2 linked regions of the Homo sapiens genome follow. The protein of the gene in region 1 interacts with the protein of each later gene in a pairwise test. Each region holds a gene or a part of one and is shown on either strand. Other genes may lie near its edges. The genes, in order: EGLN2 and ETS2.

Evidence for each region.
Region 2: the proteins of EGLN2 (region 1) and ETS2 interact in a two-hybrid assay, tested with the Homo sapiens proteins (one large-scale study listed by BioGRID and IntAct).

What each region holds. Positions count from the first base shown.
Region 1 is NC_000019.10:40,801,909-40,805,590, forward strand, and holds part of EGLN2 (prolyl hydroxylase EGLN2), read left to right. Parts: intron 1-3,682. UniProt on the Homo sapiens protein: Prolyl hydroxylase that mediates hydroxylation of proline residues in target proteins, such as ATF4, IKBKB, CEP192 and HIF1A. Target proteins are preferentially recognized via a LXXLAP motif.
Region 2 is NC_000021.9:38,815,929-38,819,738, forward strand, and holds part of ETS2 (protein C-ets-2), read left to right. Parts: intron 1-1,079; coding exon 1,080-1,163; intron 1,164-2,496; coding exon 2,497-2,718; intron 2,719-3,574; coding exon 3,575-3,810. UniProt on the Homo sapiens protein: Transcription factor activating transcription. Binds specifically the DNA GGAA/T core motif (Ets-binding site or EBS) in gene promoters and stimulates transcription.

The sequences.
Region 1 (3,682 bases):
TTGACTTTGCCAGGAACCCTCTTAAACTCATGAGAGCTGCTGACATTCACAGCGTGGACCTTGGTGGGGTTCATGGCCTCCTGGTGTCAGTCTGTGGCCCCAGACCAAGCACGGGGATGTAGATAGGCACACAGTTCACCTGGCCGTTCTCTGTTGCTGTCTGTCCCTGTCCACATCCTTCCCTGTGCTCCTGTCGTCCATCCCTGTTTGCTGGCCCATGTTTCTAGTCCATCCATCCTGTCTCCAAGGCAGGAGAAGCAGAAGGGGGAGGGTGGCTGTGATGAGTGAGCCCTGGGCTGAGGGAAGGAAAGGGGTGCTGCCCGCTGGGCCGAGTGCTTGGCCCTGGACTGCATTGTGCCCTGGGTCCCCACTGTGGCATCTGCATCGAGGACAGTCTCCTGGGGGTGGTACTGGGTGGCTGCCTGTTGGCCCAGGTGGAGCTCATCCCCATGTCTCCCACCCTTCACTGTCCCAGTCCCTGCCCTCCATTCCCCCTGTCCTGTGTGTCACTTCCTCCCTACCCATGTCTGTCTCTTCCTCTGCCTTTATGTGTTTGTTCTTAGTCCCTTTTTCTTTTTGCTTTAGAACAATAGTTCTTAATGGTATTTTGGAGCCTGGGTCTTTTTGAGAATCTGTCAGAGGCCACAGATCCTCTCTTAAGACAAATGCTCATTTGCTTGGAGTTTCCGGGCAGTTGTCAAGGCCTCATGGCCTCCAGCTGCCTGTTCAGGAACCTGGGGTCAGGAGCCCAGCACAGGACAGTGGTCCATAGGGCCTTTCCGGGCTGCTGACAGGATCATTGTCTTCATGGGTGGTGTGGGGGCCTGGCCTTGAGTCCAAGGCTTGGTGTCCTTTGGACAAGGCCCTGTGGGGAGTGCCCACTGCTCAACACAGTGATGCCTGGCTGGCTGATGGCACGGGCAGTGTTGTGCCCTGCAGGCGTGAGGCTGAGCTCCTGATGTCCTCTGCCTCCTCCTGCAGATCCCATCTTGGGTTCTGCTTCTGTGTGGCTTTCCTCTCAGGCTGGAGCTGGCTCAGGGACCAGGGCTCCCCCGGGGCCAAGGCCTGTTTCCTCCCCACCCCAGCTGGAACTTGTTCTACTTCCCTCTCCCTCCCGTTACTTGATAGCTGAGCCAGAGCCGGCCCCTCCCTGGGCTTGGCTCCTGTGCGGGCGGGATCAGTGGCCTCCCTGGCTCAGCATCTTCACCCCAGGTTGGCTGTCGTCCTCGTCAGGGGGAGACCAGAAGGGCTGAGTGGCCCAGATGGGACACTGCTCTGAGCCTCAATTTGCTGATCCACGGAATACGAAAACCAGGTTACATCCCCAGTGAGTCTGGCAGTTTGGGGAGGGGAGAGTAGGAGAAGATCTCTTGTGTTTTGGTGCCTCTGGTGCCCACTTTCTATGTGGTTGGGGACAGGGCCCCAGCGAGGATTGGGGAAGGGGCGTGTTTGGACTTTTTTAGCCCTAGGTGACCTTGATTGTCCTAGGGAAGTAAGGACAGGCCAGGCTGGACTGAGAACATAGGGGAGGAGCCCTCCCCTCCCCAGTGAGACAGCAACTCCAGGCTTTCCCGCTTTTAGATGGGCCCCATCTGGACTCTCTCCTGTACTCCAGAGTAAGGCTGTGGGGTGCTCAGGTGGGCTGCAGCAGTTGCCGTGGGGACATGGATCACCAGTGTGGCTAGAGCCAGTAGAAACGTGCTTCTTAGTCGTTCTGAGTGGAGCTCCTGTGTCATCCTTCCTTCCCCCAACTCCCTGGTTGGGGACAGGTGCTCCGTTGACCTGTAGGTGGGAGAGAGTTGACTCCCACTGGCAGCAAGGGCTACCAGAGGGGACCCCAGGGAGAGTCCAGCTTGCTTGGTTTGCTCCTTGAAGAGCAGCTTGGAGGTGGGACAGTCACAGGCTTCTGACTGGGGTGTGTGTGTAGTGGGGGTGGGGCTCTTGGCAGGCAGATTGTCACCAATAGCCTTTAAGTCTTTGGTCTCCTGGCCCTGGTCCCACCTGTCCCTCCCCTAGGTGGGAGGGGTGGAGAGCAAGTTTCCTGAGGCCTTCCCCTGTGAGGGCAGGAAGTAGATACTTTCCTTGGGGCCAGAGGATGCTTTCACCCCCAAGGTGTGTATATGTGGGGGAAGGGTGGGGCCCTAAAGAGCAGGTTCCTGTTTCTGTGTGAGTCCCATGTGCTTGGTGGGAGGCGCTGTGTGAGAATGTACAGGGCAGGAGGAAACATAGCAGGGCTGGGGTGCAGAGGAGGCCCAGAGCAGTGCACTCCAGTCTGCAGGTACTGCACTGGGCACTGGGGAGACCAACCTGGCCCCAGGGGCTTCCCTGTGGCTGCCTTCCAGGGCAGTACTAGGTAAACAGGTGCCTGTGCTGATGCCATGTTGCTAGGAGTGGAACGGACAATCAGCCGGAGTACTCAAGGTGACCCTTGGTCTCTGAATCCTGAATAACAAAGAGGGTCAGAAGGAAGAGTGTCCCAGGCCAGTGCTGAGGCCTTGTGGTGGCGATGAGCTCAGCCTGTTGAGGCATGGAGCAGAGTGATGGGAGAGGCACATGAGGTTGGGGGCCTTTGAGGCTGTGGTTGGGAATTTGTATTTTCTCAGGATGGAGTGAAGACCTGGAGAGGAGGGGCTCTGGCTGCTGTGTGGGGATGAATTGTGGGAAGAGGGTGCAGCACTGGACCCCTTCCCTGCCACCCATCCACGTGCATCATCAGTGTAATCTCTGATTGGATTCCTAATTGGGGAGGTCTTGCCCATCTCTAGTCAGTAACTCACTGTTTCTAAGCCTCCTGGACCATGGCCCAATTCTTCTCCCAGTGAGGTGGTTGCTCAGAGTGCCGACCCTTCCATAGGGAGTGAGCAGTGCAAAGAAGGTGCCCCCTCCTGAACCTTGAAGTGTAGCCATTAGGGTTTTCCCTGGGGGGCCTTCTCACTAATTGTACTCTGGTGCTGCCAGAGAGAAGGTTGTCAGCTTCCCACTGCTAGGTGGCAGTAGATGGTGGCAGCCCTCTCTTTCCAGGGCAAGGTCTGGTGGATGAGGTGCACATGGTTAATGCAGAGCAGCTTAACATCCACCACAGAGGGTGAGCCCTGGGATAATGTGTTGGGAGGCGTCCTGGGGAGGGTGAGGATTGAAGCAGCCCAGTCTGCTGTGGCGTGCGTGCTTGGCAAGCATCCTGTTGTGGCAGTGGCCACTGATGTTTGATCGTGAATGTTTATCTTGGGACTGTCTTGCTGGGCCGGGCCCATAGGTGTAGCTGAGCATTCGTGGGGAATGGACGCCAGCAGAGTTGTACCAGGGCAGAGAGGTCAGGGCAGAGAGGTCAAGACAGATGGTCCGGGCTGGGGAGAAGTTGAAGGGTCCTTGTGCCAGTCCTCCCCTTTTTGTGTGCTACCTCATCTTGCCACTGCAGTGACTTTGGGCAGAGGGTGGGACAGGGACCTTTTAAAATTTTTAAATGGCATTTCAGCCTGTGCTCCAGTTCTCCATGTGGCAGGCACTGTGCTGGCTGTCTTCCCAGACACTTGTTATCTTGTTCACTTGTTCCACAACAACCTGTGAAATAGCTGTGAGCTCCATTGGATCCATGGATGAGGAACCTGAGACCAGGAAGTCACCTGCCTGATGCCACAGCTCATGTGGCAGCACTGAGACTTGAACCAGGGAATTGTGTCTGCAG
Region 2 (3,810 bases), on another chromosome or scaffold:
CTGTTGAAAGGAAGGAAGGAAGGAAGGAAGGAAGGAAGGAAGGAAGGAAGGAAGGAAGGAAGGAAGGAAGGAAGGAAGGAAGGAGGGAGGGAGGGAAGGAAGGAAGGAAAGAAAGAGGGAGGGAGGGAGGGGAGGGAGGGAGGGAGGGAGGGAGGGGAGGGAGGGAGGGAGGGAGGGAGGGAAAGAAATAAAATACAGTAGGGATTATTTAGGTTAAAAAAATATAAGAAAATAAGCATGTTTATAGAATTCAGGGAACTAGTCCTCACCTGACTGATTTTAAACACACTGAATTTCAGCATCAACTGTAGACTCAGAATCTCGAAAACACCTAGGATTCAACAGCTAACTTTTTTTAGTTACGGCGTCTGAGGGCCAGGGAAACTCATTTTTAAAGACCCTCATTTCTTCTGAACTTGGACAGGGCTTTTCTACCAAGTTTCTGGTGATCTGTTTATTGGCAAATTGGGCCTGTTTTACCATTCCTCGGGCCTGTGAGTTTGTGTGTATTTGGGTTTCCGGGTGGACGTGCACTTTGTAATATATTCGTAGTAAGTATGCATACACAGTGCACAAACCTTTTCCCTTTCAAAGTTCTTGGGCACATGTGTTCCCCATCCCAGACTCCCACAGCCCTGGAGACTTCCCACACCCTGGGGAAGCGTGCAGGTTTGGAAGCAGTGGAACTGTAAGCTTCACGGGGGCAGACACCATCCATTTTATTAATTTCCTGTATGCAGCCTCTGGTACAGATGGCATTTCATAAATACTTAACTGTTTCTTGAATGCATGAATGAATTCAATACACCATCTGGACCTTTTGCGATAGAAAATTTAGTGTTGCCAATGACATCATTCATTTTGGAAAATTTATTTTAGTAATTGGAAAAATGGGTTGCTTTCTCTCGTTTTTTGAAAAAGACAGGCAGGGACGTGGAGCACCATGAGATTAAATGTGAAGCACTCCGTGCATCTCATCATTCTAAAATTATCATCTCACAGGAATTCAGAAAGTCAATTTGTTCTGTGTAGTTTTCACCTACATCTGCCATCTTACGTCTCCTGTGTCTGCTTTTCAGAAAACCAAGAAAAGACAGAAGATCAATATGAAGAAAATTCACACCTCACCTCCGTTCCTCATTGGATTAACAGCAATACATTAGGTCAGTCCGATTGATTCTGCCCTTAAGAACTTTGTCTTCAGTCTTCCCAGTAGACTTGGAATCTCTCTACTGTAGGCTCCTAAGGGGCCACCTAGACCTGTGTGTCTCTTATGGTGGCCACACGTGGGTGTTGAGCTATAAGCCATTGAAATGTGACTGGTCCACATCGAGATGTGTAGGAAGAGTATAGTCATGCACACCAGATTTGGAAGTCTTAGTATGAAACAGAGAATATAAAATGTCTCCCTGATAATTTTTAATGTATTGATTACATATTGAAATGATAATTGCTATATGAGGCCAAGTAAAATAAGAAAATTAACTTCACCTGTTTCTTTTTGCTTTTTTAATATGGCCACTAGAACTTTCGCAGTTGCTTAAGTGGCTCACACGATCTTCCATAGGTCAGCACTGTTAGTGCTAGTCCAGGCAATTCTTAGAGCAAGGAGCAGAACGAAGTGAGCTGATTACCGCAGTCACCAGTAATGTTGGTTTAGTGTAGCAAACAAGAGGCGGCAGGCACAGAGTGCGTGAAAAGCAATTTGTAAACTGGCTCTGAACTTGGGAGCTTAAAGAGCTGTCATGGAATCTGGGTCCTTTCTTCTGGTTGCTGATACTGGGGAGGGCACAGGGTCTGGCCAGGCCAGCGAGGGAGGGGTCCTCGGAACAGCAGGCTTGGGTGGTGTTGGTCCGGCCCAGTGTTTTCTCTCTGGCCCCAGCTCCACCATTCAGACCCGGTGAAGCCCACCTCTCTGCCCCACTGGGGGCTTCCTGCTCAGGAGGTCTTTCTGAACATGACAGTGGGACACCCTGTGCCTGCCTGAACCTGAATCAGAGTCAGAGAGCTTCCTTCCCTCTCCAGAAAATAAATTATTCTGCAATGAACAGAGACAGGAGCGGTGTGATGAAGGAGCAGAAAGCAGAGTGGGCTGTGCCTCAGCACACAGGGTTCATGGCCTGGTTCTGCCCTTATGAATCACACAGTACATGACACGTCACTTGGTCTGTCTGAGCCTTACTCTCCTCGGAAGCTAAAAGAGCCAGTGAGCCCTGTCTTCCTGAAGGTCCCATGAAAGCACTAGGGTTGTAGAAATAGGAACATTGAGTCCTGCCTGCAGAGGCTGCAGTCATTTTGGCAGAGGGCTGCTGGTTGAGAAGCTGAATGGTTTGAGAAGAAGGCCTGGTGACAGACCCCCACCAAAGCCCGGGTCTCCACTGAGGTTCTGCAGAGGGCTGGAGTGTGCGGAGTGCTCACCTGTCATTTGCTCGTAGGGGTTAGTTACTGGGGTAACACTGACTTTAAGAGCTCTGCCGTCCGATTGTTCTGTTCCAGGTTTTGGCACAGAGCAGGCGCCCTATGGAATGCAGACACAGAATTACCCCAAAGGCGGCCTCCTGGACAGCATGTGTCCGGCCTCCACACCCAGCGTACTCAGCTCTGAGCAGGAGTTTCAGATGTTCCCCAAGTCTCGGCTCAGCTCCGTCAGCGTCACCTACTGCTCTGTCAGTCAGGACTTCCCAGGCAGCAACTTGAATTTGCTCACCAACAATTCTGGTAAGATTGGAAGCATCTTTCAACAAGGCTGTTGCTTTGATTCTGAGAACCCCAGAGCCATAATGAACCTCTTAATAAATACTTCCTGGATTCAGCCATTAGAGAAGGGGGTCAAAGCCCATGTTCTAAGTGGATTTCCAACAAGCATACCCCTAATATGTTTCAGGCACTGGCCCAGGTACTGCAGGCATTGAGTAAACAAAACAGTCCCTGCTCTTACAGCCAGATTTCTCCACACTTTGGGATATTTATGGAGGCGATGCAGGAATGTGACATTTCTTCTTATGGAGATGTAACATAAATACAGTGCACAAGTCTCAGGTCATGTGGCTGGTTGGATTTGTGTATGTATGTATACCCATGTAATAACCATCCAGATGGAGATAGAGAAGTTTCCAGTAGCCTGGAAGATTCCTTCGTACCCCTTCCCATCAATAATGTCCCCCCGACAGAAGGGAACGATTCTGACTTTTATCATTACGGATTAGGTTTTGATTTTCTTGAACTTTACATAGATGGAATCATAAGGCATGTTTTCTTTTGTGTTTGTCTTTTACTCATCATGTCTGGGATTCATGCATGTTGTTGGATGTAGCAGCCATGTGTTCTTTTTCATCGCTGTATAGTATTCCATTATAAGAATTTTATTCATTCTACTGTTGATGGAAGATAGGATTTGTGTAGTATAGTTACCCTAAGGAATAAGCACCTGAGTAGAGAGCATTTTGAGAAGTCTGAGTGGTTCTACACCAGCAGGTGCATGATTGCACTGGTAGTGGTTGGTGATGCTATGGTCGTGCCCAAGACCAACTGTGTCCTGGAGGAATCAAAGTATGTGTTTGGTTGTCTTTGCCAGGGACTCCCAAAGACCACGACTCCCCTGAGAACGGTGCGGACAGCTTCGAGAGCTCAGACTCCCTCCTCCAGTCCTGGAACAGCCAGTCGTCCTTGCTGGATGTGCAACGGGTTCCTTCCTTCGAGAGCTTCGAAGATGACTGCAGCCAGTCTCTCTGCCTCAATAAGCCAACCATGTCTTTCAAGGATTACATCCAAGAGAGGAGTGACCCAGTGGAGCAAGGCAAACCAGTTATA